Regions from separate parts of the Homo sapiens genome. Here region 1 is linked to region 2. Evidence: fine-mapped expression QTL. A gene starts in region 2. The other region holds a variant in brackets. All regions are shown on one strand. Distances are from middle to middle.

Evidence for each region. PIP is the estimated chance that this variant, and not a neighbour inherited with it, causes the effect.
Region 1: its variant is fine-mapped to the expression of SREK1 in monocytes (Fairfax 2014, PIP 0.95).

The regions. Positions count from the first base shown.
Region 1 is chr5:66,031,032-66,039,372 of GRCh38, reverse strand. It overlaps ERBIN (erbb2 interacting protein), which reads right to left. Exons shown (of 26, transcript NM_001253697.2): 15 at 891-990. Among named protein-coding and RNA genes, the nearest start is that of ERBIN, 110 kb to the right of the region's middle. The variant C/T (reference allele first, on the strand shown) is at 4,376.
Region 2 is chr5:66,140,924-66,149,264 of GRCh38, reverse strand. It overlaps SREK1 (splicing regulatory glutamic acid and lysine rich protein 1), which reads right to left and starts at 4,965. Exons shown (of 12, transcript NM_001077199.3): 1 at 4,728-4,965. The coding sequence starts at 4,888. RefSeq lists enhancers at 4,225-4,274, 4,335-4,394, 4,655-4,934 and a silencer at 5,115-5,184.

The DNA of each region.
Region 1 (8,341 bases), 110 kb after region 2:
GAGGACAGAATACTAGCGTAAGTTAAGCATCCCTTATGTGAAATGCTTGGTTCCAGAGTGTTTTGTAGTGAATGAATGTGGCTGTGCTCCAAAAGAACTATTATCATCATTTCAAGATAAGGAAACTGAAGTTCAAGAACCTATTTAACTTGCCCGTGGTATAATTTATAAATTAAGACTTATGATTGAAATGACTGATTTACATTTTTTCTTCAGTGTTTCTATGTACTAAGAATTAATTTATAAATAATTTCAAACCACAGAGATTTTCACTGGTGTCAGAAAGAAGATACATAAAAAATAGTTACTTTAAGTGTAACACAATAAACACACACACACACACACACGCAGAGAGTACAACATATACTAAAAACAATTTGCTCGTTAGTCTAAAAGGTCGTCATACCATAATCTATAAAAACATCTGTGCCCAGTAGTAAAAGGTATACTCCCCCTTGTCGGGCAAAATAAAGAAAAGAATTTAAGAGTAGTATTTATAGTCAGAGTTCAACAGATTATCCTGATCCAGTGTGTAGATCCAAGTGTAATATTAAGTTCACAGGTGAAGAAAATATTTCTTGGTTTAATAATTCTTATCACATAACACTTAACATGTATTCCTAGCATACAGCTAAATGTTTTTAAGTTATCAATTTTAACACTGCGGTTTAATTTAAAGGAATCATTTAAGGAAGCATATGCTACACTTATACTTCTAAATTCAACCCCTGAAATCGTGCCCTATTTTTCCATTATTTCGAAACAAACTGTTTTGGTCAATTCTCTGAAGTCCCATCAAACTGGTAAAAGTCTCTGAGACTTAAAGTTCACTTCACACCTTTTAAATTAGTATTTGTTTTTAACAAGAAAATCGATTATGAAATTCCTACCATCCTCAGTCCTTGGCTGTTGAGGGAACATGTAGTTGGTAAGCACCATTTTCTGGGTCTCTGAATCAGTTTCTTTTTGAAGAGGTATCAGGGGTTTGGACTAGAGAAGGAAAATAAATGCTTAATTTTCAATAACCCTAAAGCAAATATATATTCAGCAATTCCTCTGCATAAGTACACACCACTTTTTCTATAAAGTATCAATGTGCAGGTTACAAACAAATCTAACTATACACAATAACACTTTAGGCATTGATTTGATAACACTTTAGGCATTGATTTGAAACCATATTAAAATCCAACAAATGTAGTTTTTAGTATAAAGCAAGTAAATCAAGCTACTGAAATATCGTTTTAAAAGATTTCATATACTAAGTTTATCCATAGTCCGTTACTTATTAACACAGTGATATATTTAATACAGTTATAAAATAAGCCTTTCCATTGTATATTATTTTGCCCTCTCTAGTATTCCCCTTCACTAAGATGCTTTTGGAAAAAATGTGGAACAGTTAGTCTGGTTATCTAAATGTTTATTCTAGTTAGCAGCTGAAAAGAGAATGATGAAAACAATCAGCTGCTTCTTTTTCTTCCTCTTGTGTATCCTGTCTACAGTAATGACACCAGTAAGTCACTCGGTGGTGGAGTCCCCCAGGAAATTTGGACCTTCTTTTTTCTTATGATTTTTTCCCTAACTAGTCAACAAATGTTATCCATCTATTTTTTAATATAACTAATTCTTTTTGCTATTCACCTAAAATCCTACCAATAAAAGCCTTGGCTGACTCCAGACGGACAGAGAACTACCCAATTCTCCCCTCACATGTCACCCTATTACTTAATTCTTTGCACCTACTCCTATGAAAACCTTCCAGCTAGTTAATTCCATCCTGTAATCTTACTCCCATTTAAACATTCCTTTCTGTTCCTCAGCAAACAAAATCTGCCCTACATTTCAAATTCCTGAACAATTTCCTTAACTCTCAGATAATGGAAACGGTAGCTCTACTCCCTTCCCAAAGACAGTGCTTCTCTCAGGCCTCAAATACAGGTGTTTTATTCTCTCCTACCTCATCCACCCCAAGTCAGGAGGTGAGGGTAGCGCTTACAATGCTGTGACATCATTCCTCCCTTATCCTCAGATTTAAATTCCTTTTCCTTTGAGGCATATAACCCATACCTTCCATAGTCAATCTCCTGTCCTATTATCTACTGGCCTCTTGGTGGTATTCATCTATTCCTGGCTCTTTTACACCAAATTTTTCCAAAGTCACGAGTAATTCAACATATACAAAACACATATGACATTTCCATACTTTTGGCTTCTTAGCAGATGAACAATTTGTGAGAAGAAAAAAATAAGCCCCCTTAGATGAGCATATAAAAATTATATGGGAGGCTTTTAAAAACTCATCACCCTGAAAATCTTCTAAAACTGTTGTAATTGTTGCACAACTCTGTGACTATACTAAAAACCACTGAATTGTATCCTTTAAAAGGGGTTCACTGTATGGTACATGAATTACATGTCAACAAAGATGTAATAAGAAAACTAGTCACCTGTTATTTATGAGGCACAGACAGAAAAAGGAATGAGAACAGTATATCTGGCCTCTCAGTTCCCTGAACACCTAACTTCAGAGATCTTTAATCCGATTTCATTTCACATATTCTATTACTATGCCATAATTCCTAAAATATTCTTCTCTGAAATATAAAGATCACTCATTCAATGAATATTTCCTAAGAGCCTTTTATATTGCAAAGCACTATGACAGGTCCTGTGTACAGAGTGGTGAGCAAAGCATGTATCTTTACTGACTTTACTGTAGAGTTTATGAGAGGAAGAATACAGGTAACAAAATAGGCAACTGCTACTGTAATTCCAAGTGAAATTACAGGGTAGACAGGGTACAGTGTGCAAGAAGAACATACAGGAGGAGAAATTCACTTACCACTATCTTGAATGATTAGCAAAGCATTCCTGAAAGAAAGTCTAAGGTGAGGATAAGAAGGTAAGAAGCCAGGTAAGAAAGAGAAGGAAGAATGTTCCAAGAAAGCAGAACTGATTTAGAGAAATGAGAATGAATGTGTATGGGGTAGAGATGAAGCCACAAGATGAGCAGGCTCTTGAGGCATATGACATAAAGAAAAAAGAAACAATGAAAAGGTTTTAAGTAGGATAGTGCTGGGATCAGATTAAAGAATCACTCAAATCACAATGTGGTTCAGAATGGGTAATAAGGGATTGGAACTGGTAGCAACACTGGAGGCAGAGACCTATTAGGAAGCTACCTCAACAGTCTGTCAGCACTGTTCGAAAGCACTGTAAGGTAAGACAAAAATGAGTACCACAGATTATTTATAATTTTCTTTTTCTTTTCTTTTTAAGAGAATCTTGTTCTGTCACCCAGGCTGGAGGCTGGAGTGCAGTGGCATGATCATAGCTCATTGTAACCTAGAACTTCTGGGCTCAAGCAATCCTCCCGCCTCAGCCTCCCAAGGAGCTGGTACTACAGGTATGTGCCACTGTGCCTGGCTATTTCTTTTTCTAAGAGATGGGATCTTGTTATGTCACCCAGGCAGGTCTCAAACTCCCGGCCTCAAGCAAGCCTCCTGCCTTGACTTCTCAAAGTGCTAGGATTACAGGTGTAAGCCACCACGCCCAGTCTGATTACTTATAATTTTTTAGTAGCCACATATAATAAAATGGCAAAAAAGATGAAATTTTGATAATGCATTTAACTTTACATATTCAAAATATCATTTTAACATATAATCGAAAAAAATTAGGAATATGACCATATATATTATCTGTTCATACTAAGGCTACAAATACCAGTGTGTACCTTACACTCACACCAAATCTCAATTTGGACCAGTCACCTGACACTAGTGGCTATGGTACTGGACAGTGCAGGTCTAAGTGAAAGATGACAGTGAACAGTATTTAAGGGAAGTGGTAGTAGGGATAAAGCAAAATACACAAACACTAGGATGTTTAAGATTCAATAGGGCTTGTCTATCAACTGGACTGAAGTACAGGGAAAAACAGTAGTTAAGGGTTGCATTTCCAGGCCTCTGCCTCCATCAAGTATTATTTACCAAGCTAAAGAAGCTGAGGGGTGTGGGGGAAATATATTTGGGGCAGAACGTGGTATACTCAATTTTGGGCTTGCTGAATTTGAGACATGTAGGTGGCAATGTTAAGTAGGAATTGAGCTATATGAATGTGAAGCTCTGGCACAAGAACTGGGCTGAAGATATTGTTAAGAATAATGAGGATACAGATAGCAATTTCAGGAGAAAGTAGGGAGAAATTAAAGCAGAGCCTAGGGTAACCATGAGAAGCACAAACATGTAAGGCACAGGCAGAACAAATATGTCTGAAAAGGAGACTGAGGAGCAGTCAGGTAAAAGGACAACCAGCAGAGTATGGTAACACAGACATCATGCAGCCCTCCCACTCCACTGCACTCACAGTA[C/T]TTGCTGATCACCCTCAGCAAGACTACTATTCCTTTGACCTTTTGACATTCTTCCCACCATTTACTCCTGTCTTTGACTCCCCTTTTGTACCACACTGTATCTTATTTAAACCACTTTCTTGCCACAAACCAAGACCTCTTTGCTGCATTATTCTTTTCTTGCACCTGTCTTGGCAAAACTACAGCCCAAAATCCTTCCAGTTGTGTGCTTTCTCTATATTACATTGCTGAGCAAATTAGTATCACCACAAACTTGTGGAGTGATTAATTTGTACTCATATTTGTGTACTGATACTAATAATACTTCAACTAGGCTCTACATGTTACCTGAAAATCCTTCTATGTTTCCTAAACTGTGTTCTGAAAATATCTTCCTTAAAAAAAAAAAAAAGGATTCAAGAACAGCTATGAGGTTGTGCTTGGTGGCTCACGCCTGTAATCCCAGCACTTTGGGAGGCCGAGGTGGGTGGATCACATGAAGTCAGGAGTTCAATAACAGCCTGGCCAACATGGTGAAACTCCGTCTCTACTAAAAATACAAAAAGCTGGGTGTGGTGATAAGTGCCTTTAGTCCCAACTACTCAAGAGGCTGAGGCAGGAAAATTGCCTGGACCCAGGAGGCAGAGGTTGCAGAGAGCCAAGATGGAGCCACTGCACCCCAGCCTGGGCGACAGAGTGAGACTCTGTCTTAAAAAAAAAAACAGCTATGAGTATGGAAAATTCTACATTCTAAGAGTATCATAATGTACACTATTTCCTCTCCTCCCTTTCACAAACGTCATACCCAAGCTCTCTCCAACAGGTTAAGAATTCCTGTCATAGCTTTTCCATCAGTTTCCATCCATTATCCAACTGCTTCTCATATTCTTTTTTTTTTTTTTTGAGACAAAGTCTCGCTCTGTCACCCAGGCTACAGTGTGGAGTGCAGTGGAGTGATCTCGGCTCACTGCAACGTCCGCCTCCTGGGTTCAATCAATTCTCCTGTCTCAGCCTCCCGAGTAGCTGGGGCTACAGGCACACGCCACCACGCCCGGCTAATTTTTGTATTTTCAGTAGAGACGGGATTTCCCCATATTGGTCAGGCTGGTCTTGAATTCCTGACCTCAGGTGATCCACCCGCCTCGGCCTCCCAAAGTGTTGGGACTACAGGCATGAACCACCGCACCAGACCCTCATATTCTTAATCTTACTCACACAGCTTCTTTCCAACAACCTGTAAACATGCTCTGCAATATTAAAGGATCCCTGCGCTTTTCCTGCTGCTAGCTATCAATTTCTTTATGTTCCATTCCATTTCCTTCTCATCCAACCTTCTTAAAGAGTAATCAACATTATGTGATTCCATTTCATCATCTATTTATTCCTTAAACTCCTTCAATCTGGGTTTTGCCATATACCTCTATAATTACTTTAGCTAGCTGCCAAATATAATGGATATTTTTCAGATATAATCTGAACTGACTTCTCAACAGCATTTATCCTATTAACAACTTCTTCCTTCAGGCCAGTCTTAACTCTTCCTTCTTCACTCTTAACTTGAGTCCATCATCATCCAGTTCTCCTTCTACTTCTATGGCTACTCTCTTTAAGCCTCTTAGTCTACTGCCATTTAAATGTTGGGGTTCCTCAGGATTCATCATGCATCACTAACATTTTAAAAGTTATTTTATATAATTCCTTTTGAGAAACAACAAAAGCTATGACACCATTCCCTAGAAAAAGTTAATTACGATCATGGGCTGAAACAAATGTGTATTTCTTCTTGTGCCACAAATCTTTTAAAATAAAGTGAATATATTTTTACAAATAAGCACAAAGAATAAACCTATAATAGTACTGAAAAAAGAAAATGAAGCCTTCAGGAGCAATTTTGAGAAGCTTCTGAAGGTTAGAAATTTTTAAATAGAGAAACCAAGAGCACAGAAACCATACAGAAGAAAATGAAGTCAGGAGGTTCATGGTCACCAGCGTGTTCTATGCATGGCTAACTTGGATATACCAAAGATACTTCTAACTCAACATGTTTAACTAGAACTTAGCATCTTCCCATAAACATATTTCTTTCATTTGTGGTTACTTTTCTTGGTTGTGGCAGTATTATCCACCTAGTCACTGAAGCCAAATCTTTGACCCTCATCTTTGCTTTTACTCTCTTCTCACATACATGCATTGCTTCATGCTCTATTGATGCAATCTTTTAAACTATTCCTCAAAAATACCTGCTCTTCCCCCAGTTCTGTTTCATTACTTTAGTTCAAGGCAACGTGTTCTGTTGCCTAGAGTATGACAATGTCCTCCAATTCAGTCTCCCCTACCTTCATGCTTGGCACTAACCCCTGATGAATCCATCTTCCACCATGCAGCCAAAAAGGCCTTTCTAAAATATCAGTGTGATCATACTATTTGCCTGTTCAATGTTACACTGGTTTCCGTATTATCTATCATAAAAATCACTTCTTCCTTTTATACTGATGGCAGATATGAATAATTGATCATGACTAGAATGAACAAATGTCCATTTTGCCTGAGACAGACACAACTTATACATGTTGTTCTCATGTAATTATCAATGGTGCCCCTTTCACTCCCCCGAAAGTGTCCTATTAGGGACAATAAACTACACAGCCACCCAAATCACAGCAATTTTCCACTAGCTTGAATTTGATCATAAGTCAGAATCTGCAACACAATTTTTCAGGAAGCCACTCATAATTGATAAGAGTACAAGATTTTAAAAAATCTTATTTGCCATCCTTGAGATATAATACAGGTTCCTCTGCATGGCATAGAAGATCCTCCACCAACTGATCTCTATCTGCCTTAGTAGCCTCGTTTTCTACCTTTTCCGTCTCACTGTTACACTCTTGTCACAATGATCTGCTTGTAGAGTTATGGAATATACTATGCTGCTTTGCACCTAAATGCTTATGCTCATGATATTCTTCCAAACCAGAACACTGTTCTCTTTTTTTTTCTTTAAATCTTATGTCTAGTTGGTCATGGTGGTGCAGGCCTATAATCCCAGATACTCAGGAGGCTGGGGTGGGAAGATCACTTGAGACTGGAAGTTTGAGATCAGACTGGGCAACACAGGAAAACCCCACCTTAAGGGGTAAAAAATAGACAAAAATCCTATTCCTCTTTTTTATTTAAAAAAACTATCTTGGAGATAGAATCTTGCTCTGTTGCCCATGCTGGAGTATAGTGGCATGCTCATAGCTCACTATAACCTAGAACTCCTGGGCTCAAAGGATCCTCCAGCCTCAGCCTCCTGAGTAGCCTGGACTACAGGCATGTGCTACCCCACCTGGCTAATGTTTTAATTTATTTGCAGAGACGGAATCTTGCTATGTTTCCCAGGTTGGTCTCAAACTCGGGCCTCAAAAGATCCTCCCACCTCAGCTTCCCAAAGCTCTGGGATCAGAGGTGTGAACCACCATACCCAGCCCCGTTCCTCTTTTGAGAGATAATTCAGGCACTGCAGGCATTTCCTCCTCTGAGAAATTTGCCTTTACATCCCTTGGTTATCTTCCCCATCTTTGATCCTAAAGCTTAGTCCTATTAAGTCTTTTAACCACATTGTATTAAAGTAACTTTCTAAATATTGTTCCCACCTTAAATTGCCTGGCACAAAGCAGTTGTTCAATAAATGGTTCCTGAGAATCACAAAATGGATGAGGGAATAAATTAATAAATAATTGTTCTGCTCATGCCTTCAGCAGCTCATGAAAATTATATTACTGCATGTACTGTTCTACATAGCTGAGCAATTTATTTTCATAAACATTAAATAGTAGAACAATTTACTTTTATAATTCACAACCAAACCTCTGTATACCTTCTCCTCTACATGTCATTCTTTCATAGCAAAATTATTGCTTCATATGGTAAGGGTAAGGGAAATTTTCTAGGTATATCTGATTTGTTTTACTCAATATTCTGTCAAACTTTGAAGAACAAAGACTC
Region 2 (8,341 bases):
GATTCTCCTGCCGCCTCCCAAGTAGCTGGGATAACAGGTGCACACCACCACACCCAGCTAATTTTTTGTATTTTTAGTAGAAACAAGATTTCACTATGTTGGCCAGACAGGTCTCGAACTCCTGACCTCGTGATCCGCCTGCCTCGGCTTCCCAAAGCGCTGGGATTACAGGCGTGGGCCACTGCACCCGGCCAATTTTCTTAATCTTCATTTCCAATTACCTTCCTTAAAATAAAGACCAACTTACATTTACTTTATAAAAATGCAAATATTTGAAAATTTCAGGCAAGGTAACACTATTTTATTTTGACCATTATAAACTAAAATTATTAGAGTAGCAAGCCAACAAACAGATAGCTCATCAAACAAATGTGTACTTGCTTGTGCCCAAGAGTTCAAGACCAGCCTGGGCAACAGAAGAAGACCTTGGGGGAAAAAAAAACACATAAAAAGGGATGACATATTCCATTTGGTCTAAATGTATGCATCTATAGAAACTAGCAGGCCAGGCACAGTGGCTCACATCTGTCACCCCAGCACTTTAGGATGCCAAAGCAGGCGGACTGCTTAAGCCCAGGAGTTTGAGTCCAGCCTGCGCAACATGGTGAAATCCTGTCTCTACTTAACTAAATAAATAAATAAAATTTTAGAAATAAATTTTAAGAAGAAAATAGCAGTACCCAAATTTAGCAGATTTTAGTTTGACCTCATTCGTTGACTTAAAGTTTTGGTTTTTTAAAATACAAAATCTTATCAATTTTTCAAAAAAAATTAAAACTTTTCAGTGGGTAGTACACGCAGAAACCAAAGAACCAACTTTTTGGGCATCAATTAAATTTCTTGGCCCTAACTGGTTATTTTGTCTTTTATTAAACATAATGATAGCACTATACAATATTTTTAAAACCAATGAGGTAATAATATGTCCAGTATTTTATCAGTACATTAATACACATCCTTTAGAGGACAGAGGACCTACCAAAAAAGATATGCCAAAACATGAGCGAAGCATACAGTATCATGTACAAAAATATTAGTTGGTGCATTATTTATAACAGGGTTTCTTCACTGGGCTTCAGTGGCCCTATGGATTAGCACAATTCATCCTGTTTAAGACTACTTATAAGTTGCTAACATTTACCCACTAAATGCCAACAGGCCCTCTAATCATTGTTGACAATCAAAAAGACACACCTCCCAATTTCTAGCTAAAATCCACTAATTTGTAATACCAAAAAAAGCAATCAAAATATCCAACAATAGAATTTCAAAAACACACAATACACTCAGAAATTACTAATCTCTAAATATTACTATAAATAAGACAGCAATATGGAAAATGCTTATGACAAAGTGAAAAAAGTAAAATAACAGTGTGATTCCTTTGATTACGCTATATTACATATATTACATAATGATAGCACTATACAATTATTTTTAAAACCAATGAGGTAATATGTCCAATATTTATTAACGCATGTGAAAAGGACTACAGGGAAATGGAGAGAAGCTTTGATAGAGTGGTGGGATCACAAGTGCTGTTTCCTTTTCTCTATTTTCTATAAAGTGGCTTTAGTGGTTACATTTTTTTTAACTAAATAAACTTAAGTAGTTGACAGATTTTTCCATTCTTTCTTAGAACTTTAGAAGACCAGAGAAGTGACGGAAATCAACAAGCAAAAAAAATCAACACAGGAAAAATGTCTAGTGTTACAAATCAGGGTAGGCTTACCCTTCAGGTTTTAGTTACTTGAAGGGGGTCACGGGGAACTTACAGGGTGCAGATAATCCTGACTGTGTGCTGGTTATATAGGTATGTTTACTTTGTAAAGATTCATCAACCTGCGCTTACGACCTGTGCACTTCTCTGTAGGTACATTAAACCTCAATGAAAAATTTACTGAAAAAACAACAAGGATTTCTTACTTGTGTAAGAAAGTTTCACAAGCTGTGAGATTGATTTATTGTGCAAAAAGTTAATAGTAATTCTACATATTTATCAACTGGCAGCACAAAAAAAGGATGACAAACTACAAATAAGAATTCTTAATGCTTACAGTGAATGTTCACAAGAATTCCCTAGCCTTAAAAAATTCTTAACGTTTAAAAGATAAAGATGAAACTCAACCACTGCATCATGCCAAAAGAATTAAATTTAAAATCTGAATTTTCATATTAGCAACTTAAGTCATTTAAGTCATTTTTTTTTAAGAGATAGGGGTCTCAATATGTTACTCAGGTTGGAATCAAACTCCTGGGCTCAAGCTGTTCTCCCACCTCAGCCTCCTGAGTAGCTAGGACTATAGGTGCACACCACCACACCTGGCTCAATCATAAAATTTTAATGAGAAACTATTTTCACATTCTATTAATGTATTTCCAATATACCTGGAAATATGTATTTGAAAATAAATATATTTCCAATTTTAAAACAATTTAAATTTCTACTCAACTCTAAAGATGTCATAAAATAATTTATGTGACACTGCAAAACAATATATTTTCAATACAACTACTACTATTGCATTTTGTATCCATTTCAGTCCAAATTTGCAAACACGTCTTCTAATATAAGGACCAGGCAATGACAACTTCATTACGAAGCAGAAAACCTGTGAATAAAGCATGTCAGTATTGCTGCAAAACATGAATGAGGGATCTAGTATTGCACTTAGGGAAAAACTAGTTAAGGATTTTGCCTGGCCTATATATATTACACGTATGCAACAATTTTGCTTAATGTGTTACAGTTTGTGAAATACACTACCGTAATCTTCCATATGTTTAAGTGAAGAACTTTTTATTCTCTTTGACTTTTAAATTCCAAGTAATAACATCTGATTTCAAAAAAGTGGCCCATTACTGTCAGTTATGGCAATGTGTTGTCACCCAAACCCAGGTTTCAACCAAATAAATATTATGTTGATAATGAAGAACATTCTCCAATATATTTCTTCTACCTATGAGATACCTTATTACCACAGCCTTGAAAGCAAGATTTACAAAGGTTCATGTACAAAGTATTTTACTGATTGATTCCAATGCCTGCAGGATACGGCACTCCCCCAAACAATTCTCAATTATTCTCAACTATTAAGAAATGTTCTGAGAACTTAAATTGAGATGGCTGAAAGCATTTCCAAAAGTTAAGATAATTAAAGCAATAATGCCACGGTTAATCAATCAAAATGTACGTGCGTGCACTTATGCAGTATTCTCGTCAAAAATGTATTACCTGAATCTCGTCACGAATATAAAGATATATATATACACATATCTCTATATACCTCATCTATATATCTCATCTATATAAACTCAGATTATGAGTCATATTACAAGACAAAATGAACTACAAAACAAAATATCAATGTCACGACTTTAGAATCTTTAAAAGGGGACGGGACTGTCCTAGATTAAAGGAGATAACTATTAATACATGGATTACTTGGCATATTCAAGGGAGACAGTGTTATCTAATTACATACTAGATCAAAAGCAGACAAAAAAGCATTATTAAAATAACTGGGGAAATTTTAATAATCAACTGTAGCCAAAAACAGACAAAATGCTCGTAAAAGGAACATGGATGTTCAATGTATTACTCTTTCAACTTTTCTGTATGCATGAAATATTCCAAAACAAAAAGCAGAGAAGAAAAACTTAAAAAGTAAATTTTAAATATCCACACAACTTTTATATAGTTATGCAACAGCACTGTTATAACCTGAGATAGAAAACTAAAGAAAAATAGGTCTAAATGCATCACTAGGAAATAAATCAAAATTTTTTTAAAGAAATAAATCTTGGGTAACAATTACCCCTTCCCTCAAAGGATTTTGATATAATGAACAAAAAACGGAGGATCTTAATACTGTAAGATCTACCATTAAAAAAGAAAAAAAGTTTGTGTGCAAGAATGTGAACAACCTACAAACCCCTTGCGAGTTTTCTAAATAATATCGTACGAGGGAAATTTTACCATTCCAAAATACACTATCTGGGAAGTGGCCGCGAGCTGTGAATGCCAGCCAAGATCTGGACTTTAAATGTATACGGGAGGGATAACCCTGCACCGACTTACACTTTTTCTGAAAGCTTTGGGACAGTGTGACCTTTCAGGAGGAAAATTTAATCTGCTGTCAAAAGGGCTAACAGACATGATCTTTGGGAACATGGATGCGCTCGGTTAGATAAACCAAAATGCTAAGTTTGTGCGACCGTCCTGGGAAACAAACACAGCCCCAGTTCCATCTTGTCACCAGCAGCAGGCTTTCTCGTCAGCAAAACGGCCTGACACCAAGGCCTTAAAAACTGGACTGTGGCTCAGGCGCGGTCTCCGCGATTTTCAGAGTGGAAAAACGCTCTGAGACGTTTGCCATGAGGGCTGTTCCGGGCCCACCTGCGGCCATCTTAAGTTCGGGGGGAAATAAGAGGGTGGGGGCACGGAATTCGAAGACCCAGCAGCGAACACAAGTCCCGGAGGCACAGAAAGGGCAACCATTCTAAATCCTTGGTAAGGGCTCCGTGCAGTAGTTAACCCCCCAAATCCGACTAAGGAGAGCAGGACGGCGGAACCCGGGTGCCCTAATCAAATATGGGCACCAAGGTAAGCCGGCGCGATCACGTGACATGCACCGCGCGCCCGCGTCCGCGCTCTCCTCCACGCCTCGGCTCCCGAGGTCTCTATGGCGCCCGCGCCCCTCCCCCAGCCGAGCTCCAGCACTTACTCCGGGGGGTAGAGCCGCAGCTCCTCGATTTCTCCTAGGAAGGAAAAAAGCGTCCGCATCTGCTCGCTGGTCACCGCCGACGACAGATTCGTCACCTGAATCACCGACGTGGGGGTGAGGCCGAAGCCTAAGCCCAAACCGAAGCCGCCGCCGCTGTTCATCCCGATCCCGCTGCCGTTGCCTTCCCGCTCCCCAACGTCTACGACGCGTCAGCGACGGAGCCGGGAAAGCGGAGAACGCGCGGCCGCGAGCGCGCTCCCGCTGGCGAATTCACAGCGCCGGGCAGATCTAGCCGCCCATTTCACAACTCCCCTGCTCCCGGGGCTGCGCGCGCCAGCCGGAAGCGTCGCCCCGGCAACCCGGCGGTTCTCGCGCGGCTGCGGCCTCCAGCTCCCGGGTCCCTGGGGCTGTTGCTGCTCGTTTCACCGCCTGGATTTTTATCGGTGTTTTTGTTTTCCCCAAAAGTCGATGAGAGTCTTGTGCTCATGTCTACCCGGTTCCTTCCGGTCTCGGATTGGGAAACCAAGCGGCCTGGCCTACTGGTGCGGGACTGTAAAGAAGGAATGACTCTTGGACAACACGGAAGAACACTTGACCAAACTATAGGGCAGCCTTATCACATACAGGCAGCACCCCAACTCCAACTATTTTTAAAAGTTGGCAGGCGTCCTAATTGTGAAAAAAACAAAATTTTACAAAATGCGTAGGTTCAGGTTGAATTAAGGAAAGAGGCAGTAAGATGAAGGCTGTGCAGGGGTTGTTTATAACCTGTTTTTAATTCCCTCGTTCCACAGGTGTTGATGTTTATTGAGTGCTATGTCCCAGGCACTATTAGGCAAGGGCACGTAACAGACAGTTAAAGACAGTTCACATAGAACTTGCAACCTAATGAGAGACAACAGTAGTGAGTCCATGGCAGCTGCTCCCAAAATGCCCTCCGCAGATCCCTAAGGGTACCGAGACCTTTTCAGTAAGTTGGCAAGGTCAAAACGATTTTCGTAATAATATTAAGAGTTTCTTGACCTTTTTCACTTTGTTGCCATTTGCACTGGTAACGTAAAAGATTAAACTGCTGACACCTTAGCAGCAATCAAGGCAGTGGCGCCAGTCTTGTACTGGTAGTTGCATTTTGTATTCTTCACATCATACAACATTTAAGGTTTTAAAGTATGCTAGTTTCACTTTAAAAATGTCCTTCACAAATAACTAAAAATTGTATTTTTTTTTCAAATCCATCCTTGCTTACACGTCTTTTAAAGAATATGTGTGAAAAAATGGAAACTACTGCCGCTACATGCCCAAGTGAAATGGTTGTCTCCGGAAAAAGCACTAGTGTAATTCTTTGAATTTTCACCTAAAAATACAAATTTTATTACACTTGTATCCACCAGCTTGAGCTTGACAGCTTGCCAGTACTTAAAGACTTTTCTAGTAAAAGAAGCATTATATTAACAATTTATTTTTGACTATATAATGAAATATGTCAACATTTTTGTGATCTTTACAACTTAGTGGACACCTATTTTTCAAATGGCCAGTGGGTGCCATTACAAAGGCAAAAAGCCTCTGGTATGTGCAAGATAGATTGATGGATTTCAGTGCTTAATTGATGTGGTTTCAGATTCAGTCCACACTGCAATGAAGGCTAAGAAACTACCACATGTAAGTTTGGTACCGTATCAAAGAATAATATCTAGAACTATCTGGAAAGGCTATAAAGTAGTTTTCCCTTTTCCAACACCTTATCTTTATGAGATCAGATTTCCCTCATATATTTCAACCAAAACATATCACAACAGATCGAATACACAGAAAACTCATGATCACAAAGAAGGAAACGTCAGTCACTGTGGTCTACTTGAGGGTGGAGGGTGGAAGGAGGGAGAGGAGCAGAAAAAATTATTGAGCACTGGGCTTAATACCTGGATGATGAAATAATCTGTACAACAAACCCCCATGACATGAATTTATCTATGTAACAAACCTTCACATGTACCCCTGGACCTACAATAAAAGTTGGAAAAAAATAAAGAATACATAGATAGGAGAATTCAGCTGTCTTCTATTAAAGCAGACATTAAAAAGGTTTGAAAAATGTAAAACAATGCCACTCTTCTCACCAATTTTTTGGAAAAATATTTTATCATAAAAATGCATCATTTTGCCTTCAATCTCGGTTTCTAAGAAAAAAATGCGTCATTTCTATTAACATAATGGGCTTATAATTATTTTTAAATGAATCTCAAAATACCAAATTTCTCAGGTTTAATTTATAATGTGGATAGTAATAAAAGCATTTTACAGTCCTTAATAATCTTTAAGAATGTAAAGGGACTCAAGACCAAAATGTTTGAGAATTATTATTACCATAGGTATAAGCATGGAGGAATTCAGAGCACACAGGAGGGCCTCTTAAACTTAGTTCTAATGGAATACTTCCCAGAAGAAATATTGCTTAAGCTGAATATTGAACAAATAGGAATTACCCAGGCAAGGAGGGAAGGAGGAGCAGTGAAGGGCATTCCAGACTGAGCATGTAGAATATGCAAAGGCAGGGTTAAGGTAAAAGAGAGCTCGAGTGAGGTACAGAAGATTCAAAGTCTGTTATTGCTGGGCTGAAAATGACTAGAGATGCATGCAAAGGAATAAGCCTTTATGAAGGGTATTATTTGTCATGGTAGAGATTACTTTATCATAAGCTGGGAGCCACTGAAGACCTCGGAGCTGAAGAGTGACCCTGATCAGATTCATGTTCTAAAATGACTGGCTATGTGCGGTGGCATATGCCTGTAATCCCAGGATTTGGGGAGACTAGGGCAGGAGGATTGCTTGAGCCCAGAAGTTTGAGACCAGCCTGGGCAACATGGAGAGACCCCGTTTCTACCAAACAATAACAACAAAAAAGTAGCCAGGCATGGTGGTGCATGCTTGTAGTCCCAGCTACTGGGGAGGCTGAGACGGGAGGACTGCTTGAGCCTGGGGGTTCGAGGCTACAGTGAAAATGAGTTGTGATTGTGCCACTGCACTCCAGCCTGAGTGACAGAGTAAGACCCTGTCTCAAAAAAGAAAGGAAGGAAGGAAGGAAAGAAAGAAAGTGATGACTGTCACTGCAACCTGGAGATACATTGGAAAGGGTTCAGACTAGAGGCAAAGAAACTGGGTAGGTTATTGCAATAATCTGAATAAGCTATAATGAGGTCATGAACAAAGGTAAGAGGTGGTAGTAATGGAAAGCAAGGAACAGCCCCAAATTTGAGAATCACTGAACTCATTTGAAGATAAAAGGAATAAAAGCTGTCCACTCAGAAAAATATATATGGACATAAACTCACTTTTAGCTACAATTACTGATGCTTTCTGGTCCTCCTGAAGTCCAACCATAGATCTCTCGGATTAACAACTAGTTTTGAACAATTCTCAGACTTTAGTGTGCATCAGAATCAGCCCGTGGGCATGTTACAACAAATTGCTGGTCCCATCCCCAGAGTTTCTAGTTCAATAAGTCTGGAGTGGGGCCTGAAATTTTAATTTCTAACAAGTTCCCAGGTGAGCTCCTTCTTGTGGTCTGCAAACCCCATGTTGAGAACCACTGGTTTAGAAGGTTGTAAAAGCAG